Homo sapiens: one gene and its partners. The protein of the gene in region 6 purifies or fractionates together with the protein of the main gene of each other region. This does not show direct contact. Each region holds a gene or a part of one and is shown on either strand. Other genes may lie near its edges.

What was found.
Region 1: the proteins of PLEKHO2 (region 6) and PPP2R2D purify together in Homo sapiens (affinity purification with mass spectrometry; 3 studies listed by BioGRID and IntAct, with this or other methods). This does not show direct contact.
Region 2: the proteins of PLEKHO2 (region 6) and CAPZA1 purify together in Homo sapiens (affinity purification with mass spectrometry; 3 studies listed by BioGRID and IntAct, with this or other methods). This does not show direct contact.
Region 3: the proteins of PLEKHO2 (region 6) and CPAP purify together in Homo sapiens (affinity purification with mass spectrometry; 3 studies listed by BioGRID and IntAct, with this or other methods). This does not show direct contact.
Region 4: the proteins of PLEKHO2 (region 6) and FAM184A purify together in Homo sapiens (affinity purification with mass spectrometry; 3 studies listed by BioGRID and IntAct, with this or other methods). This does not show direct contact.
Region 5: the proteins of PLEKHO2 (region 6) and VEZT purify together in Homo sapiens (affinity purification with mass spectrometry; 3 studies listed by BioGRID and IntAct, with this or other methods). This does not show direct contact.
Region 7: the proteins of PLEKHO2 (region 6) and MAP3K6 purify together in Homo sapiens (affinity purification with mass spectrometry; 3 studies listed by BioGRID and IntAct, with this or other methods). This does not show direct contact.

The regions. Positions count from the first base shown.
Region 1 is NC_000010.11:131,907,508-131,911,007, reverse strand, and holds part of PPP2R2D (serine/threonine-protein phosphatase 2A 55 kDa regulatory subunit B delta isoform), read right to left. Parts: intron 1-3,500. UniProt on the Homo sapiens protein: Substrate-recognition subunit of protein phosphatase 2A (PP2A) that plays a key role in cell cycle by controlling mitosis entry and exit. Involved in chromosome clustering during late mitosis by mediating dephosphorylation of MKI67.
Region 2 is NC_000001.11:112,626,332-112,629,831, forward strand, and holds part of CAPZA1 (F-actin-capping protein subunit alpha-1), read left to right. Parts: intron 1-3,500. UniProt on the Homo sapiens protein: F-actin-capping proteins bind in a Ca(2+)-independent manner to the fast growing ends of actin filaments (barbed end) thereby blocking the exchange of subunits at these ends.
Region 3 is NC_000013.11:24,898,862-24,902,361, reverse strand, and holds part of CPAP (centrosomal P4.1-associated protein), read left to right. Parts: intron 1-2,777; coding exon 2,778-2,943; intron 2,944-3,500. UniProt on the Homo sapiens protein: Plays an important role in cell division and centrosome function by participating in centriole duplication. Inhibits microtubule nucleation from the centrosome. Involved in the regulation of slow processive growth of centriolar microtubules.
Region 4 is NC_000006.12:118,959,263-118,961,463, forward strand, and holds the end of FAM184A (protein FAM184A), read right to left. Parts: intron 923-2,201; coding exon 841-922; 3' UTR 501-840; downstream 1-500.
Region 5 is NC_000012.12:95,266,307-95,269,806, reverse strand, and holds part of VEZT (vezatin), read right to left. Parts: intron 3,451-3,500; coding exon 3,175-3,450; intron 1-3,174. UniProt on the Homo sapiens protein: Plays a pivotal role in the establishment of adherens junctions and their maintenance in adult life.
Region 6 is NC_000015.10:64,844,915-64,848,414, reverse strand, and holds part of PLEKHO2 (pleckstrin homology domain-containing family O member 2), read right to left. Parts: intron 1-3,500.
Region 7 is NC_000001.11:27,364,162-27,368,167, forward strand, and holds the start of MAP3K6 (mitogen-activated protein kinase kinase kinase 6), read right to left. Parts: upstream 2,801-4,006; 5' UTR 2,437-2,800; coding exon 2,097-2,436; intron 752-2,096; coding exon 612-751; intron 524-611; coding exon 500-523; intron 234-499; coding exon 43-233; intron 1-42. UniProt on the Homo sapiens protein: Component of a protein kinase signal transduction cascade. Activates the JNK, but not ERK or p38 kinase pathways.

The DNA of each region.
Region 1 (3,500 bases), on a different chromosome or scaffold from region 6:
GACACTGAGGTGATGCACAGGGCGAGGGACGGGGGCTGAGACACAGAGCTCCCGTGTCCTCTCTGGGTGGGCCCCCCTCCAGAAACATCTGGAAGCTATCTTCAAACCCAGTCCATACATAGGCAAGACTGTTTGGCCACTGGTGATCAGCTTAACCTTCAGCTCCCCCACCCCTCACCACTCCCCGAGGTTGGGGATCGGGGCTGAAAGTCCCAACCTTCTAATCCTGCCTAGGTCTTTCTGGTGACCAGCCCCTGTTCTGAAGCTACCCAGGGGTTGCCGGCCCTTAGCCAACGCATTACGAAGACATCACTGACGAGCCCGAGGATTTTAGGAGTTGTGTACTAGGGAAGACCAAATACATATTCCACAGTATCACACAAGCTGAACTAGCCCTTTTTTTCATGGAATGCCATTTTTATTTGAAAGAACAACTGACCAACTTTGGTTATTAAGAATTTGGTATCTGGCAGAAATTGACTTGAAAATGAACACACTGCGTCCCTCACTTCACAGAAAGTAACTGACAGTATTTGTTACCAATGATAAAATCCAAGCTTTCAAGAGAAAATTAGAATTTTGGAAAACTTTTCTCTACTACTGCTAATTTGACAGTTTCTCACTTTTTCTTCTGATGAGATCAGTGATGACATTAAAAAATAGGATTTTCTTCAAGTTTACATAATGGAATGTGTTAACATTTAGAAAAAAAAACAACTCCATGTAACAATATTTCCAAACAACCCCCGTGTGATGTTACCAAATCATGTCCATGAGCAAAAGACCCACTCTGAGCACAAGACAGACCTCAGGGTTCTGACGGAAGAGAGTACAGAAACGTCACTGACTCCGAAAGGCCGGCACACTCAAACACGCTGCCACCTGGCGAGTTATGGTGCATCGCTAAGAGCCTCCAGGATGACCCCTCTTCTGCCCACATGGAAGTGTGACGCCACATTTTCCTTACACATTTCAATAAAGCAACTGGAACACACGGAATGCAGAAGCAGGTCTGAGAATCCAGCCGTCACCTCTTAAACCTCATATTTTAAAAGGATGTGCAAAAGTGTAAAACAACACTGTTCTTCTTGCTTAATCTTTTTGTTTTTGAAAAGTTGTTTCTCATTAAAAAGGTTATGTTAACATGTAGTAGATTCTTTTAAAGTAAAATAAATATTGTAAGTTGTTCTGTTTTAATTTCAAATATAGAAAACATCAACAGCGATAACCAGCACAAACAAAGGCTCTCTGGATCCTCAATATAACTATTAAGAGTATAAAATTATTCCAGCACCAAAAGACTTTGCAAACCAACTCTAGGTCAGGGTTTAGCAAACCACAACCTGGGCGACATCTGGCCAGCTGCCTGTTTTCTGTAGGCATGCTCCTGTGGAAGCAGGGCACAGAGCCACGCCCATCCATCTCTGCAGGGTCTATGGCTGTCTTCCTGCTAAAGGCAGAGTTGAATTCAGTCGTTGCAACAGGGACAGGATGGCCTGAAAGTCTAAGATACTTACCATTTGGCCCTTTACAAAAAAGCTTGGCCACCCCGAAACTAGAGTAAGCCCATTTTCCCAATCTTTATTATTGCAGTAACTTCCTATCTCCATTCTTACCCACCACCATCCACTCTCCAAAGGGCAGAGTGACCTTGTTAAAAACAAAGCTGATGTCGCTCCTCCGCTTAGGATCTGAAAAGCTCACAATCACTCAGAGTCCTGAGCACACGATTCAAGTCCTTTATTCATCATCCTGTGGCCCCAGCCAGCCTCCTGCTCATCACAGCCACTCCCTTTTCTGCCAGAGGACCATGCCAAGCACTGACCTCTCAGAACATACCATGCTCTGTCCAACCTCCACACCAAGCACTCTCCACCTGGAACATTCTCCTCCCCTTCCCTTCCTCCCTCTTCTTATACCCTGATGTCCTCCCCTCCACTCCCTACCCAAGTCTGTGTACTGGGTACTTCTTCACATTGCCTCAGTGTGCTCTGGTCCAGCCATGGTGCAAGGACCCACCTGCTTGTCTGTGTCCAAACAGCGTTTCCTGAAGGCAAGAACTGCATTTCTATTTCCAACAGCCAGCACTAGCAGCCCTTTGGTATGCTGTCGTGAACTTTTCAGATGTGCCAAGCTGAAAGCTGGCCCCTGCATTACCCTTCATTTTTCTTAAACTGGCTCCCTGAAGTGACAGAGTCAGCTATTTTCCTATGCAAGAGGGTCTCTTAAGACAACAGCCTCTGAACAGTTACCAGTTAACGTGTTTGTTTGTCAGAGCTTTCCATACATTTTCTGGAATCTTCACAGCAACCCTGTAATGGTCACAAGTAATAGTACCCGTTTAACAGATGAGAAAAGAGTAAGTAACTTCCCAAGTTAACACAAAGCCTGAAGAGGGTGAAAAAGGGATGTGTACCAAATTCCACGTGCACAATTCCTCTCCATCACCTGGTAATATCATGACATTCCATATGCTGACTGACATCCAGTGGGAGAGACGAGCCTAATAATACATGTGATAAAATAAGGGAACCACAAGCAGGACACAGCCAATTGCTAAACAACATGGAACACAGTGTGAAAGGGAAATCTGGAGTCTAAGACGACACTGAACGCTGAGGGGAGCTGGAGCAGGGACTCGCCAAGTGGGATTGGAGGTGGATTTAGAAGGATCAGCAGGGCTTAGGGAATGGACAGGAAGCAAAATAAATACTCTAGGCAAAGAAAGAAACAGGAGCAAAGATCAAGGGATGGGAATAATCACTGAATAATAACGTAAACATTAAGAGGCCAGGCCCAGTGGAAGGGATCTGGGTAGATGGACATGAAGCAGGTAAGGAAAAACAAGAAACTGCTATTTTTGTGTTTAAATATAGCTAAAACCAAGCCCCAATACTTTAAAATACAAGAGAATTAACAGTTGTATCTAATACTTGAAAAGCACTTTTCAAGTTGCAACAGCACTGCACATTGTTTGATCTTAACAAAAAGCTTCTGATTTAACTTCTAGATAAGCGAGCTGAAGCTCAGAAAGGGGCCCTCAGAGTTGAAAACAGCAGACACAAACCCAACCTGGAACTTCCCATCAGAACAGCAGACTGCTTAAAATCAGGGAACGTGGAAAATCACCAGGTATGATTCAATACCACCACATATCTTGTAAACTTAACTTCACGATGTAACGATGACCAGGCCAGCCTCCTGAGCGTTAAGATGTGGCTGTACTAAGCATGATGAGTCTGTGAATCTTTTTTTTTTTTTTTTGATATGGAGTCTCGCTCTGCTGCCCAGGCTGGAGGTGCAGTGGCGTGATCTCCGCTCACTGCAAGCTCCGCCTCCTGGGTTCATGCCATTCTCCTGCCTCAGCCTCCCCAGTAGCTGGGACTACAGGTGCCCGCGACCACACCCAGCTGATTTTTTGTATTTTTTTTAGTAGAGACGGGGTTTCACCCTGTTAGCCAGGATGGTCTCGATCTCCTGACCTCGTGATCCGCCCGCCT
Region 2 (3,500 bases), on a different chromosome or scaffold from region 6:
ACGTGTAATCCCAATACTTTGGGAGGCTAAGCCGGGACGATCACTTGAGCTCAGAAGTTTGAGACTAGCCTGGGCAACATAGTGAGATCCCGGTCTCTACCAAAAAAAAAAAAAAAATTAAAATGGTGGGACAGGGCACAAGTAAAAAGTCGCCTCCTGCCCCTGTCTTCCACCCACCCAGTTTCCCTGACAAGTAGCCAATATTACCAATTCCTCTTGTATCTTTTCTAATTCTATGCATATACAGACACACTTTTCACTTAATAATATCTCTAACCTGTCCACATTCCATCTACCATTATTTTCACTCAGGACCTTTTTTTATGCTTGAATTATTTTTAACAACATTTTTAATTATCTCTCTGCCTCAGGCCTCTCCTTTCTTTATACATCCTTCCTGGTTTATCATAAATTCTTCACAGCTATAACGTATTACAAAATTTTGAGCAGTGTGTAAAATTTATCTTTGGTACAACTGCACATACAGATTGTTAAGGCAGTGTCAGTGAAATGGAACATTGATCGAATTCTGTTGAGTGTAGTCATGGTATAACATACTGTTTAAACAAGAAAACAGCATAATGGCAGACTGTAGCAAAGGAAGGTGGTAAGAGAACTTTGCTTTGTGGATTCTTTGTTTTACATCTGGGTAACATTTAAGTGCTTCTTTTGTGCTAACTATGTATTAACCATGTATTTATCTCACAACATCCTTATAGGACAGATACTTATGCCCATTTTACAGTAGAGTAAACTGAGGCACAGGCACATTTGAGGTTAAAATATATGACCCAAGTGTCCAGAACTAATAAATGGCAGAGTGGATACAATGCTGTTGTCTGCTGTCAGAGCCTATGCTCTTACCCATTTTGATTCCTTTAAGTAGATAGTAAGATAGTAAGCAGTTTTGATGAAATAATGACATAGTCCTAAACAGCAACCAAGTTAATCATGTAGTAACCTGGATGCCTTTATAGACACTGAAACATTGGTGTTCTGTGGTCCTGATTGCATTATAATTGTTGCTGAATGGCCAGGTGCGGTGGTTCACACTTGTAATCCCAGCACTTTGGGAGGCTGAGGCAGGCGGATTACTTGAACCCAGGAGTTCAAGACCAGCCTGAGCAACATAGTGAAACCCCATCTCTAGAGAAAATACAAAAATTAGCCCAGCATAGTGGCACACGCCTGTAGTCCCAGCTACTTGGGAGAATCACTTGAACCTGAGAGTAGGAGGTTGCAGTGAGCCGAGATCATGCCATTGCACTCCAGCCTGGCCTGGCCGACAGTGCGAGACTCTGTCTCAAAAAAAAAAAAAAAAAAAAAAAAAAAAAAGAAGGGCCAGGCGTAGTGGTTCACGCCTGTAATCCCAGCACTTTGGGACTTTGGGAGGCTGAGGCAGGCGGATCACCTGAGGCTAGGAGTTTGAGACCAGCCTGACCAACATGGAGAAACCCCGTCTCTACTAAAAATACAAAATTAGCTGGGCGTGATGGCGCATGCCTGTAATCCCAGCTACTCAGCAGGCTGAGGCAGGAGAATAGCTTAAACCCAGGAGACGGAGGTTGCAGTGAGCCAAGATTGCGCCATTGCACTCCAGCCTGGGCAACAAGAGTGAAACTCTGTCTCAAAAAAAAAAAAGTTGCTTAGTGCTCTTTGAGCTTAAGTATGCCGTGAAGAGTTCTAGTATTTATGCTGTGTTATTAAACAGGTGTTGAAAAACATGGCTCTAGAAATTTAAAGATCACTAAAGTCCCCGTAACAAGGCCAAGGAGAAACTTTACAGTATGACAGTATCTTAGAACATCCTTGCCTATGGCAGAATCTGTGTTTCCTTCAAAAACAGATTTCTGAGTTCCATCCTAGGTATATTGAATCAGAATTTTTTGGAACCAGTTGTCAGGAATTATTTGTAATAAGCCTCCCAATAATTATTGGAATACTTGAGAACCATTATCTTAGTGAACTTGCTGTGGTTCAAATCTTAGTCCTCTGCTTATTTAGCTCAGAAGCTTGATTGATCAGGATACTAAACCAGGTCTCTCTCGGGGATAAACTCATTTTAGCTAGGCTTATGAAACTAATGTATAAAACTGGAATAACAATTTAATACATATAGAAGGAACTAAGTTCTTTTTTTCAGATAGGTCAGGAACATGGGAAATCAAGTTAGAATGTTTTAATGGAGCATAGAATTAGAACAAAGGAAGTTAACTAGATAGTCCAAAGTATTGATGGCATTTTGTTTCATAATAGGCATATGTACCCAACACCAAAACCAAGTCACGTCTTTGTATAACAGCATTGGACATTTTTCCTCTAGATAGGTTCATTTGTTATCACATTACTAGCAGGGGAGTTTTGCAGGACTGGTTATGTGTCAAAATTTTGCATACTGCAGCTTCTCCTACAGTCTGCCCGCCCTTGGTTAATGACACTTCCATTCTTTAGTTGCTCAGGTCAAAAACATTAGTGTTATCTTTGACTACTATTTCTTTCACAATCCACTTGTTGTCCACTGGTAAATCCTGTAGGCTCTGTCTTTAAAATAAACCCAGAATTTGACTATTTCTTACCACACCCTTATTCTAACCACTCTGGAAGAAGCCATTGTGACCTCTAGATTATTAAAATACTATTTTTTATGGTTTCCCTGCTTCTGCTGTTGCTCCTGCCCAGCAGTCTGTCCTCGATGAAGCATCCAGAGTGATCTGGTTAAAATGTAGGTCAGTACATGTCACTTTTCTGCTCAAAGCCCTCCGGTGGCTTCCCATCTTTTTCTAAGTCCCTATGTTCTGGGATGTTACCTCTTTGCCATTTATCTCTGACTTTATCTCCTACATGTTCTTCTTCTGGTCTTTGTTCCAATCACGTATTCTCGCTGAATAATCTTTGCATTTGTTCTTTTCTCTGGAGTTCTTTTCCTTCTGTATCCCTCATTTCAGATACTTAACCAGAAGTCATCTCCTTAGTGAAGCTTTCTCTGGTTATTCTGTCCAGTTGCAAATCCTAACATTTCTTGTCCCTTTTCTTTGCCTTGTTTTTTCTCCTTAGCATTTATCACTTGCCAGGTAGTATTTTACTTAATCTTCTCTGTTGTCTTTACCCACTAGAATGTAAACTCCATGAGGACAGTATGCTAGTGAGTCACCATTGCCTAAAACATAGTGGGTCTTCTGATATTTGTTGAATGCATGAATCTTGCTTGGATAGCATCTGTCTTGATTTCATTGTTAACTCTCATAGGGCAGTCTGATTTCCAAGTTTTGTGAGGCCATATTGAGGACTCCAGTACTTCTGTATTACTGATAGATTTTTATTAATGGAGCTTTGTCCTCAGAAAGCTTTAGCAAGTGGCCATTGCCAATGACATACGGAATGAAACCAGATTTGGTATTACCATCATTACTGCTATCTGACTTACCTTAGTTCATCCTTCTCTTTTATTCTCTCCAAATCCTCTGTTCTACCAAACAAGAGAGTGTTTTCCCACTACCTTT
Region 3 (3,500 bases), on a different chromosome or scaffold from region 6:
GATCACTTTTAAAACGTCTCTGCTTCATTATTTCAAAACGGACATCTTTTTCTTTTAAAGAACATTTAAGTCATAAGATAATGGCTGGGTTTTTGTTTTTTTGTTGTTGTTTTTTGTTTTTTTTTAGCATTTTCCCTATTTCGGTTTTGCTTTGTTCTAAGCAAAATTCAGTCCTCGAATTTAGACATTGTGTTATCCTTCCCAATTGACAGATGAGGAAACTGATGCACTGAGAAGCAAGTTTTTTAAGTTTACCTCCTTAGTCAGTGACAGAGAGCCTCAGTGCCAGCCTAGGCAGTGTGGTTCAGTAGAGCCCTGGGCTCTACTGTATGGGCTCTTTAATCTGCTTTTTATTTTATTTTTATTTTTTTGAGACAGGGTCTGGCTTTATCACCCAGACTGGAGTACAATGGTACAATCTTGGCTCACTGCAACCTCTGCCTCCTGGGCTCAAACCATCCTCCACCTCAGCCTCCTGCGTAGCGGGGACTACAGGCACGCACCACCACGCCCAGCTAATTTTTGTATTTTTGGTAGATACGGGGTTTTGCCATGTTCCCCAGGCTGGTCTTGAACTCCTGGGCTCAAGTGATCCCCCTGCCTTGGCCTCCCAAAGTTCTGGGCTTACAGGCATGAGCTACGATGTCCAGCCTTGCTTTTCATTTCAACAACATAATAGACATCTTACCTATTAGCACGCCCTAGTCTTCTGTATCCTTGAAATGACTGTATTATATGAATGCCACTGTGACTAATCAGTTAATGGAAATTTAGCTTGTTTAGAATTTTCCACATTAGAAATTATTCTGCAGGGAATATCGTCATATGTATAAGACACTTTTTATTTAAAAATCTACTTCCTTGTGATAAATTTTAAGAATGTCCATTGCCCCAGTCAGCATCTGAGGCTTCTTCTCACCCCTTTCCCCATCACTGGAGTTGAGCGTTAGCAGTCTTTCAAATCTTGCCAACCTGATAATTATGCCATCTTTCACCTGCTAAAGTTTGTATTTATTTAATTATTGATAAAGTTGAGCATGCTTTTATATTTAGTGGTCATTTGTGTTTATTTTGTAACTTTCTTTGTGATCTTTGCTCATTTATCAGGATATTTAACTTTCTCAAATGTGCCACAAGTATTCCTCCCCCAGTGTTTGCTTTGACTATATGATTGTGTGCACACGGTCGACATTTTGAATAGTCAGTAAGAATGTCTTTTACCTTTTCTGTCTGCTCTCCCTCCAGTGAGGCAGGGAGAGACTTGTCCGGTCTCAAGGCTTTAAATGCTGTTACGCCCCAGATCCAGTTCTCTCGCCCACATCTCCTATCCCACTGCCTCGTTGTTCTCTCTACCTGGAGAGCTGATGAGTGTTTAAATTGATCATTTAGAAAAAGTGAGCTCCTGACGTTCCCTCCTGAACTTACTCTTCTCTTCTTCTTCCCTGTCTCAGCACATGAGTCTGCTCTTCCATTTGCCCAGTGGAAAATCTTGGAGTCATGCTTGAGTCTTCTCTTGCTCTCTCAGTCCATTTCTAACCCGACTGCTTCACTGCCTCAGAGCTGCCACTCTCCACCAGGACCCCATTGGCTTTCTCTGGTTATTAAATTCACTTCCTAGCAGGTCTCTCTGCTGCCCGCGTCTGTGCTCTTCACACACATCCAGAGCCAGCCTGCGTTTGGACGGTTCATCTGATCAAGGCCTCCTTCCTCTTTTTTTTTGAGATGGAGTTTCACTCTTGTTGCCCAGGCTGGTGTGCAATGGTGCGATCTCGGCTCACTGCAACCTCTACCTCCCAGGTGATTCTCTTGCCTCAGCCTCCCGAGTAGCTGGGATTACAGGCATTCGCCACCATGCCTGGCTAATTTTGTATTTTCAGTAAAGACGGGATTTCTCCATGTTGGTCAGGCTGGTCTCAAACTCCTGACCTCAGGTCCAGCTCCTGGCCTGATCTGCCCGCCTCGGCCTCCCAAAGTGCTGGAATTACAGGAGTGAGCCACCGTGCCTGGCCTGTCTCCTCCTTTTTTGACACCTTCTCCTGCTACCCATCCTTTGCTCACTGTGTTTTAGTCACACTGGCCTCCTGGCTGTTCTTTGAACACCTCAGGCACATTCTTGCCTCAGGGCCTTGGCACTTGCTGCTCCTTCTGCCTGTACTGCTGTGTGTGGACACCCTTGTGACTGGCTCTCTCATTTTCTTCAGGTTTCCTTCATGTTATCTCAGCAAGATAAGCCCTCACATACAACACAGTTTCACCCTCCCACTCTGATATTTTCTAAACTTCTTCCTTGCTTTATTTCTCTTTAATGCTTCTAATATTCCATGTACTTATTTATCTTTATTATCGTCTGTCTTCCAATAGAATGTAAGAAGCTGCATGGGAATACATTTTTTTTTTTTTGAGACAGAGTCTGTCTGTGTCGCCCAGGCTGAAATACAGTGGTGCGATCACAGCTCATTATAACCTTGAATTCCTGGGCTCAAGCCTGCCTCAGCCTCCCAGTGTTGGGATTATAGACTTGAGCCACTGTGCCCAGCTAGAATGTTTGTTTTTTTCACTGTGGTTTCCCCACTACTTCGTCGAATGCCTGATTCATCGTAGGCACCCAATGAATGCTTATTGGATGAATGCTTTAGTGAGTGGATTGGCTGTTATTTCAGGCCTATGGATTGAAGATGAATTCACTAGGACTAGCAGTTACTAGCCTGTCAGCAGGTTCTGCACATCACTGCACTGAGATGGTCTCCTTAGGTGATAACATAGTTTGGTCATTTTAGGAAAGAAATTGCAGACTTCGAACAACAGAAAGCAAAAGAATTAGCTCGAATAGAAGAGTTTAAAAAGGAGGAGATGAGGAAGCTACAAAAGGAACGTAAAGTTTTTGAAAAGTATACTACAGCTGCAAGAACTTTTCCAGATAAAAAGGAACGTGAAGAAATACAGGTATGCTAGTTCTTTATGTTATATTCATGTAAGTTAGTAAAGGTGACAATCTTGTAAGCATCTCAGAGTTATTTCTTATGTCAAAGCAAAACTGTGTATCAATCCATTATTCATTCATTCAGCAAATAATCTGTCTGAGACAGTGTATCAGGAATATCTTTGGTAGTCTGACTTTTAAAGAGTAGAAGATTTCAGTTCTTTTCTTACTAGTAAAGTCTTCCTAGAAAAGACCACGATAATGTCATGGATGAATTAACAAGCCTGGAGTTGGAAATTCACCAGCATTATGTTGTGTTAATCTTTTTGACCTACCACCCACCAAATATTGTTAGTTCTGTTCATTTATCATAATTTATGGCTGTAAATAACCAGGTGTTTAATTCTAAAACTTATAAACTGATAGGCCAGATTATCAGTCTTGTTCATTTCATAGTTAGAAGTGGACATGCTAAAACTATAAACCTTCTAGAAAAAAATAGGTGAATTTATTTACGACATTGGCATATACGAAGATTACTAAGAGAAGACACAACTAACTATAAAAGAAAAAATGGATA
Region 4 (2,201 bases), on a different chromosome or scaffold from region 6:
CCTTGTTGTTCTCATCCACACTTGTGGATTTCTCTATCTCATACATGCCATGTTCCAAAACATCTGTAGCCCAGTCTTTCTTTTCCTGAGCTCCAAACCCCTATGTCTCACTCCCTATTAATTACACCAATTTAGAAAACTATCAAACTGGCCTTTAAGACAAATTAAAATCAAATTGACTATTTATTCTTTACCCAGTGACTTTTGGCCATAAAACATAGTATTAATTATAGATACTAACTGTACTAAAGTTCTAGATCTCAACTATCAAAACTGAAAAAAAAAAAACCACCTAAAAGTCAACAGTATTTTATACACTTGAAAGTCCACAATTTACACAAGCACTTTCATTCTAGCTTTGTAAATTTAGAGAACAATTTAGTTAAAATTACACATTGTACTGGAACAAGAGTTTCTATTTCCCTATCCTGATTCTATTATGATTACTGAAGTCAAATAATTTGATATGACATGATTATAATGCAGTAAAACTTGTTGACAAGTCTTACCTGGAATTAAAAAATATTTAAAAATTAAAGCAAACGTAGAAAAAAATAAAAAGCATTGTTTGATTCTAACAAAATTTATTATGCAGTAATTACAAAGGTTAAAGACTCTTCCATCTCAAATAAAAATAACAGTTATAATTACACACATAATATAGTACCTTATAGAATGATTCCAATAAATATCACAGGAAATACAGTGCATTTTCAAGTTGGAGAGACAAATACTTTCTCATTCACAGTGTTTGACATAGGAAAGCCTATTTACATAACAATCTGTATAAAGTCATGCTCTTAGTAACAGTCTATACAGAGCTGTGCCAACACAATTCTTTCAGAATGTGAAGTACCGGGCAAACCACTCCTGGCGCTGGGGATCTGGAGAAGCCACTGGAGAAGCTTCACTCTGAGCAGGACTGAATTCATAAAAAGAGAGACATGTAACCCAGCATTAAGTCATTTTGCAAAATGAAGGCAAAAGCACATAAAACATCAGCATAGATTACCACAACGGGTTCCCCATGTTGTAAGTCGTGTTTTAAAGATTTGCTACCCCCTCTATACTAGAATCGGTTCTCCACTCCATGAGAGCATAAGAGTGCATCAGCAGCTCAAATGAAGTCAGTTAAGGAGGAGCCACATCACAACAATCACAAAGAACAAAAAACAACTGCAAAAATGTCACCTTCTTTGAATAAAAAATTCAGTAAGAATTGTGGGAAACGAGAGAATAAAATAATGGTCCTCTCTTTCAGCACCTTTTCTCTTTTAGCTGATCGTACAGATGTGTCCTTAAATATAACTAAAGTAACTACTAGTATTTTTTACTATATGCATTTTACATTAAATTTTCATTTCATAATTCCCTATGCAAATACTCCAGGAAAGGGAGAACACTAAAAATATAATTTCCCCCGTTATTGATGTTATATAGTTTATACTTTTCTTAATTCTAACTAAAGATTCTTTGGGCTACTTAAGAAAACAAAAGAATCCCTACCGTCTTTGGGGAAAATTACAAGGCACGCAACAATGTGTAATGGAAACTCCAGTAGTCATGTTCCTTGAGCTCATGCACATGCATCTTACTGATACCTGAACATACCCATGCACAAGGGAAAATAAGCAACACAAAATATTTAGCAGGAGACAAATTCAGAGGTGTATCTGACTAATTTTCATTCTTGCTATTTTTTTTGTTAATCATTAACTATGTCACTAATCACTTAGCCTAAAAAAACCTGCCTACTTTGTAAGACTATTACTAGTGACACTGCTAAGATTTAGTAAGAATAAGAAAAAAAACATAAAGCAGCAAAAAATCAGTAATAGTAAGATGAGCATAAAACAACAGTACTTTCTGACTTTATCTAATGGCTAAATTTCTAATGAAATTTGCATTTCATTCAAAATTTGCTAATACATTTAATCAACAACTGCAAGGTAAAAAATTGGAATGGAAATTTTTAAAATTATTTATTTTTTCTAAATTTAGTTTTTGCATAAGTATATTTAAGTTCCCAGAGTTTACGTATGTTTCTATTTTGACAATAAGCATATATATATATATATTTATAAATAATCTTGGTAAACAAGAAAGGGAAAAAAATAAACATATATAAAAAACAAAAACCACTTAGTAAACAAAAAATTATTTTAAAGTTCTACAATAAGGATGGATTGTTAATTTAAAAA
Region 5 (3,500 bases), on a different chromosome or scaffold from region 6:
GAGCAAAGGCTTCCTCTGATGTGGGGAAACAATGGATTCTGGCTGAGATATAACAGAAATGTAGAAATATTTATTAAGAATCCACATCTTTTTTACATAGACACTATGCTTGCTAACATATATTAGAGAAGAGCTACTTTATATTCAGTTTTCAAAACCTATATCCATAGGAAGTATGAAGACCTTAATTATAAACACTTTTAAATTCTTAATATACATTTACATACGTTCATCACATATGTTCACTGATCATATTTTGGTCACTTGTACAGAAAAAATACTGTATAGAAATACATTCTGTACATTCATAAAAGTAGGGTAAAATTACTTACCCACCTGCTGCCACTGGCACTTACCTACTCAAAATGAAGTAGGGGACGTGGAAAGATAACAGGACCAGTGGCCAACAGGGGAATACAAGTAGAAAGGCAAAGTAAGGGTTACTGCATAGTAGCATAGCTACTCTCAAAGCTGTTCAAGAGGAAGCACATTTCATGGCACTTCCCATAAGATTAATGGGGAGTACCTAATTTGTAACAATGACATACAATGTATTACATTTCATAACTTACAGTATATATGAGTAAATACCTGGTTATCAGATAAATTTTTTCACCTAACCAGTAATCTTTCCCAACAGTAAAACAAAATATTGGCATTTGTAAATTGCTTATACTATAACACAAAGCTATAAAACAACACACCTAACTCAAAACTTTAAAAATGTTAAACCATACTAAAATGTATTCAGGTATTAAAAATCTATAAAAACCAAATTTTAAAAAATCTATAAAAAGCAGAGGATGATGACTGACAGGCTTATGTTAAGACAAGGGAATGAAGGCAAAAAAGGTTTCAATTATTTGTGAGAGAGGACAATTTGAGTCAGAAACAAAACAGCATTCATGATTTCAATATATGGCACTACTGCTTGTGCTCCATTTTACTAAATCAGTTTTAAAAACTGTCTAATTTTGAAAATGTCTAAAAAATTATGATTCAAGACTTATTATTCATTTTTCAACCCATTATCCAGTTAGATAGAGACAAAGGAAGCACAATTTCTTCCAATACTTCTCTTCGTCTGTCATCTGAATGGGTAGAAGTCATAATCTGGAAGGTAAATCATGTCTAACTGGCCCACTTTACCTCTTCGTGCAAATTCCATGGGGACAGATAAAGTTGGAAAATGACACAAGGCACAGAATCCTCTATACACGCCTAACCATTAGTTGAACAAAGCCACTTTGTTCAACCAGTAAGTCCTCTCAATAAAATAAAAAGGAACTATTACTTTTTTTTTGTTTTTGAAACGGAGTCTCGCTCTGTCGTCCAGGCTGGAGTGCAGTAGCGCGATCTCGGCTCACTGCAAGCTCTGCCTCCCGGGTTCATGCCATTCTCCTGCCTCAGCCTCCCGGGTAGCTGGGTCTACAGGCACCCGCCACCACGCCCGGCTAATTTCTTTTTGTATTTTTAGTAGAGACGGGGTTTCACCGTGTTAGCCAGGATAGCTACGATCTCCTGACCTCGTGATCCGCCCGCCTCGGCCTCCCAAAGTGCTGGGATTACAGGTGTGGGCCACCGTGCCCGGCCGGAAATATTACTTATTTTAAGCATGATTTTTTTAAACTTTTAAAATTTGACACTTAAACAACTTAAAAACGTGCTATCCTTTAAGTCAATAAGAAGTAGACTTCAACTAATGCAACGACAAAAATCAACAGATGCTAAGAACTTTTATACTTTTTTTTTTGAGACCAAGTCTGTTGCCCAACCTAGACAGAATCTGTTGTCTCCAGTTCTGTTGCCCAAACTGGAGTGCAGTGGCACAATCTTGGCTCACTACAGCCTCAACCTCCTGGGGTTTAAGCAATCCTCACACCTCAGCCTCCCGAGTAGCTGGGACTACAGGTGTGTGCCACCACGTCTGGCTAATTTTTTATTATTTGTAGAGATGGGGTTTTGCTAGATTGCCTAGGCTAGTCTTGAACTCCTGGGCTCAAGTGATCCTCATGCCTCGACCTCCCAAAGTGCTGGGATTACGGGTGTGAGCCATTGTGCCTGGCTGACTTTTATACTTTGATTGAGAAGAAAGAGAAATTATAAAATCCATCTTATGTCTTGGGATTGTGTGTAGAACACAAGAGAGTAAAGAACAAGATAACTACTGGGATTCTTCCATTTCTCTATTCCATGATTTTTTAGAAACAGTGTTTATCTCAAGATTGTGTAATGTTCTAGAGCAGAACAGAGTGAAGGATGCGATGGCTACCAGAGGTTCTTCACTCCCTCTTTTCATGATTTTCTAGATACGACTAATTAAGAGCTATGAATGTTCTTCACCATATGCTTACTTTCCCCCACCTATAGATTGCAAAAGTTATATAGGTTATATAAATTATTAAATATACTAGCACACAACTGTCATCTGTTAGTGTTTGGCAGGTGTCCAGTGTACTGCAAGCCGGGTTTAGAATCAGATGGAATGGATATGAATATTTACCATTTATAATTCTATGCCTTTAGTTGTATGCAAAAGTGACTAGCATAGTATATGGAATATAGTTGGTGCTCAATAAATGTAACTTTCCCTTTAATAATAGATTAAGTAGTCAATATATCCTACAGCTTAATATACTTACAGCTAGACTGGTGAATATTTAATTTCCTGTAAGAATGGAAAACATCACTATTTGCATGATATTCTGAGAGTATCAGTGCTATAATATCTGCTAATATTTACCTGAACAGTTATTAGTACATGTCAAGAGTTTTCAAAATGCATTTATAGCAGATACGTCTATCATAAAGAAGGCATTTGAAAGGGAGTAATGGGAGCAAGCATTTACTGGGTAACTACTGCACGTTAGGTTCAGTATCAGACACTCTCTATATATTATCTCATATAATCACATGGTAACATACAGAAATAATCATGATCTCCAAAGTACTTTAGTTCCTCAAAGCAGATAGGCAGAATCATACTACATATTAAATCTAGCACATAATGTATTTATTCCTTCACTTAGCAGTTAATTGACTTTAGTAAGTACTAAAGAGAAAAGCACTTTTTTTTCCTATAAATGCAACATAGAAATGAAAATAGGTAATAAATATTCTCCTTTATGGAATAGAAAATAATCATTTAAGAAATAAAATAAAAAATGAACTCACAGTGTAAATCCTCTGGAAATCACTTCGGTTTCTTGAATGAGACGTAAAGCTTTTCTCACGAGGTTAGTAAAAGCTCGGCTGTTTGTGGCCATATCTTCCAAATGAACGCTGTATTTTTTTAGGGTCACTTGTAGTTTGGCTGTCCTCCATAATCTCAAAGCTCTTATGACCAGATACACAAATAGAATCACTCCCCATACCAGCCAGGAAGACACAATCCACCAAGTGGGAAGCATAACGAGCAAGCTAATGAAGGCAAATAGCATTGAGAGATCCCTGGGAACAAGAAAGGAAGAAAATGATATGCATCAGATTAGAGAAAGAAA
Region 6 (3,500 bases):
ACAATAATAGCAGCAGCCACTTTACTCTGAGCCACTGTATAACATTTGATACACATAGTGTCATTTCACTCTTACAACTCCCCTCCAAGATGGTAGCCTCATTATCCACATGTCATAGCAAACTAAAGCTCAGAATGGAGGATGACTCGACAGAGTGGCAAACCACTGCTAGAGGACAGAGCCAGAATTCAAAGCAGGTCTCTCTGACCCCACGTTTTTCCCACTCCACCATTCTGCTTCCATGTGTTCATTCAATCAGTCAACAAATGTACTGAGTGCTTACAACATCACAGGAGAATAAAAGTAAGGCAGTCTCTGTCCTCAGAGCTCACAGTGCGGGAAAATAGGAGCTGAACAAATAAATACCCAGGCATACCCATCAACCTGTGTGAAATGCTATACAGGAAACACACAAAGGGCAGCGAGAGGACAGTGGGGGACCCAGTTCAGGTTGGGGTGGCCCAGGAAGGCCACCCAGAACAAAGACTGGAAGGACAGGCAGGCTGAGTGGCAATCTGCCTCTCTACCGCTATGCTTCTAGAGAACCCACTCTGCAGCCCCTTCCGCTTCCCACCCAAAGCAGGAGGCTCCTCTCCCCTCCTCCCCACTCCAGGCAAGGACCTTAGGGTGGCCACCACATCTGGTGAGGGTTCCAAGGACTCTGTCTTTGACCACAGGCTGGCACAGGAGTTAAATTCAAGCCCTTCTCTTGGACTTGGGTAGACACCCTGGAGCCTTGGGGCCAGCTACTGACATCTTGTGCCTCATTGATTGCCTGCTTGGGTGGCTGGGTGCCAGATACATGCCTACCAAATAAGGTTGGGGTCAGATCCACTTCTGGGTCCCCAGCACCCAGCCCTGTTCTTTTACACATAATGGGTGCTCAAGAGGTACGCGTGAAATGAAAATAAAAATACACACCCTTTGCTAACCACTTTGCTTCACTGATAGGTACCCAGAGTCGTGAGTGTGAAGTGGGGGGTGAAGGAGAGGGGATCAAGAATGTGTCAGAATCTAGAGGCTGCTAGAAGGAAATTAGCATGGACTAATTTTGACTACGTTATAATTTACATAAAATTCAAAAAAGGGGCCCCAGTTAAAAGAGGTGTGCCTCTCCCCAGGGATATCCTGTGGCCACAGCTGCCTTTGGAAGAACAAGCCCAGACAGATGTAAGCGTGGTGCACTGTCAGGAGCTGGGAAGACCTGGCTTCCCTGGTCTCTGTCATGGCAGGGGAACCCCAGCCTGGTTCTCACTGTGGGCCCCCACCCCCTTTTGAACTGCGCATTCTAGTGGTGGGGAATCTGGGCTTAGAAGCTGCAGTCATGCAGACTGAAGCAAACCACTTAACCTCTCTGAGCCTCAGTTTCTTCATCTGTGAAATGCAGCTACTAACAGCAGAAGTTGTAAGGAATCCAACTCCACGAGGGCAGGATTTTTGTTTTGTTCACTCCTGTACCCTCAGTTCCTAGACAGTGACTGGCACATAGTAAGTGTTCAATAAACATTTGTTGCTGAGTAAAGACAAAGCATATAGAGCAGTTCCCAGGATGCCCTAAACCTAGTAAACGGCAGCTGTCATTATTGTTACTATTGTCACTGCCATCCTCTCTGGCTCTCAGGGACCCTCTCCCTGGGCCCAGTTCCCAAGTCAGGACAAGCCCTTTCTGGTCTATAGCTGCTGGCCTCAGATCTCCAGGAGCTCCAGGAATGTGGGGTCCCACCTTGGGGTCTCTCCCTAACTTGTAGATGGCAAGAGAAATGGGGAAGTGGGGTGGTCCAAATGATCTTCCCAGGGTCTTCTTCTACAGGCATGGTGGGTCATGCCTGTAATCCCAGCACTTTGGGCCGAGATGGGCAGATCATTTGAGGTCAGGAGTTTGAGATCGGCCTGGCCAACATGGGGAAACCCCAACTCTACTAAAAATACAAAAAATAGCCGGGCGGTGGTGGCGCACGCCTGTAATCCCAGCTACTCAGGAGGCTGAGGCAGGAGAATCCCTTGAGCCAGGAAGGCGGAGGTTGTGGTGAGCCGAGATTGCACCACTGGACTCTTGTATGGTTAACAGGATGAGGCCCTGTCTCCGAAAAAAAAAAAAGGTCTTCCCAGATATAGGAACAAGGAAGTAGAAGGCTGGCCGATTATGAGCCACCCTGTCCAGGAGAAGAGGGATTTCAGCACCCTTTGACAAGAAGGGAAAGGCTCTCCCATTCCATCATGCACTCAACTCCCATTCCCCACATCACCACTGACACCCCCAGGGCCCTAACACTACTTCAGCGAGCCCTGCAGGCTGTCATAGGCCCAGGGCTAGAAGGGAAGAACAGGGAAATGGGAAACCCCACCCCCACATTTCACACTGACAACCCTCCTACTGCAACGGCAACAGCAAGGACAGCACCACCAGCCCCTGCCAGGCCTTCCACCTGATGGGCAGACTCTTGGTTTCTCTTAAACAAGGCAGTGAGGTCTGTGGAGTGTGAAGCTGTTGCCCAGCCACCCACCTCTGAGCTCCAAGCTCGCCTCTTGCTTTCAGGGGACCCACCCACCACCCCAAGGGATCTCACACCCCTTTCTAAACTCTCTCCACTCATGACCTCTCCTGAAAACTTTCTACCCTCTGGAAGCTCCCTAGGGCCACAGCTGGAACTTGTGCCTAGATCACTGTCACTTCTGGGCTGATGTAGCCTAGAGAATACTGTGACTGGATTACCTACAGAAACAAGTCCAGGTCCTTGAAGAATGAATGGGACCAGGGCAGGACTAGGCGAAACAGCACTTTGGTATGGAGAAGGGGACAACTGAAGGGCTACAGATGGTGTGAACCACAGCCCAGCCACAGAAACAGCCACCCAGGGGAGGACTGGCTGGAGGCCAGAGTCCTAGTTGCCTCCACCCAGCCCCCTTCCCTGCCCCTCAGACCCCCTCCCTCCAGGGGGGCCTGGCTATGCCCCAGTAAGTTTTAATAAGGGGCCCCTCCCCTTGGCAGGGTTCACAGGGGAGGTTTTGTCCTGCTCAGCCCAGTTTCTCGGCCTCCTCTCCTCACTGAGCAGCTGACCGCTGTTCTTCCTGTTTTGCCCTCTCCCCTCCCATCCCTCCTCACCCAGGCCCTTTCCTGCCCACTGTGAGCAGCTCCTGAGGCACCCCTAGGCACCAGCCTGCCTCCCTTGGATCACTCATTAAAAAAAAAAAAAAAAAAAGAAGCCAGGTCACCTCAACTCTGTACACAGAAGGGGACAGATGGAACCACAACACAGGTTACGAGAGACAGAGACTAGAAGAAACTTGGTTGGCACCTCACATCCCAGGAAGCTTATGACAACCTTTGCTCTTTGACAAAACCCAGTGATGTTCTGACCCAACTCTACTAAGAATCCACCGTGTCAGAGTCCTGTGCCGGGGCATTGAGAGAGAGGAAGCACAGGCTCTGCCCCAGGGCAACCTTCAGTCTGAGGTGGGTAACAGAGACGCTGTATAAGATAAGTCCCCTGTCTGGTGGG
Region 7 (4,006 bases), on a different chromosome or scaffold from region 6:
CCAGCCCCCTCCTGGAGCACCCTCCCTGGGGGCCTTCATTACCAAGAGTCTGTGGGTGTGGCCTCCAGCAGGCGGGCAAGCCGGCCCACCAGGGGAGTGAGCAGGGCCTCGGTCCCCACTCCAGCCTGTACCAGCCCATCAGCCAGGCCCCGCAGAAGGCCTGCATCACCACACAGCACCCGACCAGTGGCCGTCACCACATAGGGGATCAGTGTGTAGCTGCCAACGCAATCCTGGTGGGAGGGAGGCAGGAATCAGTGAGGTCAGAGGTCAGCACAGGGCTAGACAAGGGGAGTGAGAGCATCAAAGGTCAGCATCAGTGGGAATTGGAATCGCAGGAAAGGGGCACCCGTCATGAGAGGAGGCAACAGGAAACAGAGGAATACTTGGGATGTCAGTGGGGGGTTAGGTGACTGAGGAGGCCAGGGGGATTAGTGGAGGTCAGAGGTCATAGCGGAAGTCAAAGGGCACTTTTGAGTGAGAGGTGGATTCTGCTCACCGAGTTCTTCTGGAAAACATCCTCCTGCAGGAGGCAGACAGTCAGATACTGGTGTTCTGTGTAGGCCTTACCCCAGCCCTGTGCCTGCCTCCACCAGCCCCAGGCCACCTACCCGCAGGGCCTGCAGGTCAGGGAGGTCGGCCTGGGAGCAGAGGAGCACATTGTTGGTCATGCTGAAGCTCTCACGCACACCAAGGTGGTAGAACAGGGAGGGCTGTACCAGCGAGCTGCTCACCTCCAGCACCACCACATCTGCAGGCACAGAGGGGGTGGCGCTGATCCCTGAAGCCCAGCTTGATGGGGAAGGAGCCGGGGTCCATCCTGGCTTGACCTGCCTTGCTGTGGGACTCCAGTAGGGTCTGGTTCTGCTTTGGGCTTCAGTCGGCCCTTTTTAGGGTTCCCCTGGCACTTTCACAGAACTGATCTCTGTAGTGTTGCAGGAGAGGAGTTGGGCTCACTGGGTTGGGACCCTCAGGCCACGGTTCAGAGCCTGTGAGCACCTGGCATGGGGGAAGGGAGGCTGTGGACCAGTTGAGTCTGTTACGGGCCATTTAGGAGGTGGGAGTTGCGCAAACATAGAAGTCCCCTCCCTTTGGTCTTCAGCACAGGCTCTTGAAAGGGGCTACCATCAGTGTGCATAGACAACGCTGTGCCTAAATGTATGTATGTGTATATCTGTGACATGTATAGCTTACTATGTCTGACTGTATCTGTGTGTGTGACAGCGTCTGCTAGGGCCTGCATGAGTCAACATGTATGCGATTTGTGTCTGTCGATAATTGTATCTTTGTGTCCGAGTGGTCGGGTCAGCCTTCATTTTAGGCTACGATTTCATGGACATCCAGGAAGCACAGCTACTGGACTCTAGCATAAGCAAGTAAGTATGGGGGCCGAGCATCCGGGCTGGCTGGAGGGAGGAGTGACTCGCGGGGGAATAGCCTCCTTCTGGCCCCGCCCCTGAGCCATCCTTTCCCGCCCACTTCCCCGCCCCTTCCCCGCCCATTCTTTCTGGGCCGCTGAGGCCACTTAACCTAAGCTCCCTCACCCAGTATCCAGTCCCGTCGGGCCCCTTCGCTTCTCTTTTTGCCTCTCCTAGCCCGATCCTTGGAAATAGTATGCTAGGACTCCTGAACTCCAGCCTCCCGGCCCCTTTCCCTAAGTCCAAGCTCCTCTCCCAGTAATTGTCCTCAAGAGATCCGCGTGACATTCTCCTGAGGGTGAGGCTGAGTTCTCCAACCCCACCCCTGAGACACCACAGCCCCGCGCCGCTCCCCGCCCCGCCCCAGAGTTCCAAAGCCCCTCCCCATCCTTGCCCCGCTGGCTGGGCACCGCTCCGACTGAAGGGTGCCTAAGCCCCAACCTCGAGCCCTAGAGCCGCGCCCGGATCCCTGTCTCGTCCCGAGCCCGGCCGCGCCCCAGATCCCCTAAATCCCACTTTTTTCACGGCCCTGTCCCAAGCCCTTCAGCTTTAGCTCACTTTAAGTCCCCTAGACCCGGTACCCCTCTCGGCCCCTCCCTTGAGCCTTCGAGCCCGGCTTGGTCCCCTCCCAGGACCCTGAGTCCCGCCCGGATCCGGCCCCGCCCCCAGCGCTCTCACCCGCGTTGTAGAAGGCATCCAGAGCCGCGGTGTCGCCTAGCTCCAGCGTCCCGAAGGGCAGGCTGCGCAGCTGCGGGGGCGGCCGCGGCCGGGGGACCTGCGCGCAAGCCTCGCGCAGGCAGCGCAGGGGCAGCGGCTCCGCCTCGGTTCCCTCCCGAGGCTCGAGCCCGGGCTGCGGCTCCCGGGTCAGCACGTAGACCACGCTGAGCGGCCGGCTCCGCGCGCAGCCCCGGCCCGGGGGCGCCGCGAGCTGCCGGCCCCGGCTCAGCGCCACGGCCAGCGGGTCCTGCCAGCAGCTGCCGGCGCGCTCCGCCCCGGACCGGGGACACGGCCCCGCCATGCGGGGGCGCTCAGGCGCGGGGCGCCGCGCACTGGGAACCGGGGGCGGGGCAGGAGCCTGGGCCGGCAGATCAGGAATCTTGGGATCTGGAATCCGTTCGGAATCGGAGAATCTCCCACGGGATCTAGGGATCCGGAATACGGCCTGACGTCCCGTTCCAGGAATCTAAAGTCCAGGGAGAAATCCTAGCTCGGACTTGCAAGGTCCTGAGGTTCTGAAATCCGGGATTGGGTCCCAGGAATCTGGGGCATCCGGTGATCGGCAGCTCAGAGCCACTTGGGGGATCCTGGGAATCGGCTCGGAGGTGCCCGCCACCTGGACTTCTCAAGGGAGCGCCCGCCAACGCTGCCCTGCCTTCACTTGTAGGCTAAGCCCAGCCCTTTCCCGGCCGACCCAGAAAGCTCCACCCTCGGCCCTGGGGCAGAGCCGCTCCCTAGCGGCTTGAGACTCAGCCTCTCCCCTCCCTTCTCTCCCGCCAGAACTTTGGAGACTGGCGGCTTCCGGAACAGCCTGTGCCCCTGTGCACGCCAAAGACTGTGGACTGCTCACAGCAAGTGCACATAAAATGTGTGAGGAGGCCAGGGCTAGGGAAAAGGTTCGATATGCAGGCCCTGCTCTGCAGGTATCTGTTGAATGAATGGCTCTCTAGAGACATCAGGGTGCGCAGAGCATGATGAACAATGGGTGTCCTCCCGGGCCCAGTGAGCGCAGGCAGGGAGGGACTGGGATGGGGGAAACCTACACCCTAGGCCGCTTGCCCGAAAGCCTTCAGTCCTGGAGTGGGACTTGGCATCTGAGCCTTAACTGTCACTAGGGGGCTGCTTTCCCCAGGACCCAACCTGCTGTGGACCCCCGCTGACCTTTGACTTCTAGGCAGAACGTGGCCATGGGACCTGAGAAGCACTTCCTACTCTAAACAACTCTAAACATTTCTTTAGCCACCCCTTGAAGGAGTCAACCCCAGCCCTTTGCACTACAGCAGCTTCTCAGCTTCAAATCCCCAAGAGTCCCCAACTTTCTTGTGTGAATTAATGAGTGAGGCAGCAACCTGGTAGAAGCCTCAGTGGACCCTGAAACCAAGAACTGGGGACTTAAGTTGAATAACTTGTCCAGGATCACTCAGCACATGACAGCAGGGTGCAAACCCAGGACCGCCTGTCAGACTCTTAACTATTTAATTCTGCCACTTACTAGAATGTGGCTTTGGGCAAATAAACTGCTTAAATGCTACTCAATGGCTGTTTCATTGCCCTGTTGCCTTGTGGAAGAAAAAGGTACCTTCCTTGGTTTGACCTTGGATTCGAACTGACACCCAATGAGATAGGCAGGAAGTGGTAGAGTTTGAGAACTTGGCCTGCAACAGAGGCTGGAGTGGAAAACAGACAACTTACAAAGGACAGGCATGGGCAACCGACAGGCTGAGAAAGCTGTGCAATTCCCAGCCAGGGCGGTGGCTCATGCCTGTAATCCCACTTTGGGAGGCCAAGATGAGTGGATCACGAGGTCAGGAGTTCGAGACCAGCCTGGCCAACATGGTGAAACCCCGTCTCTACTAAAAATACAAAAAAAA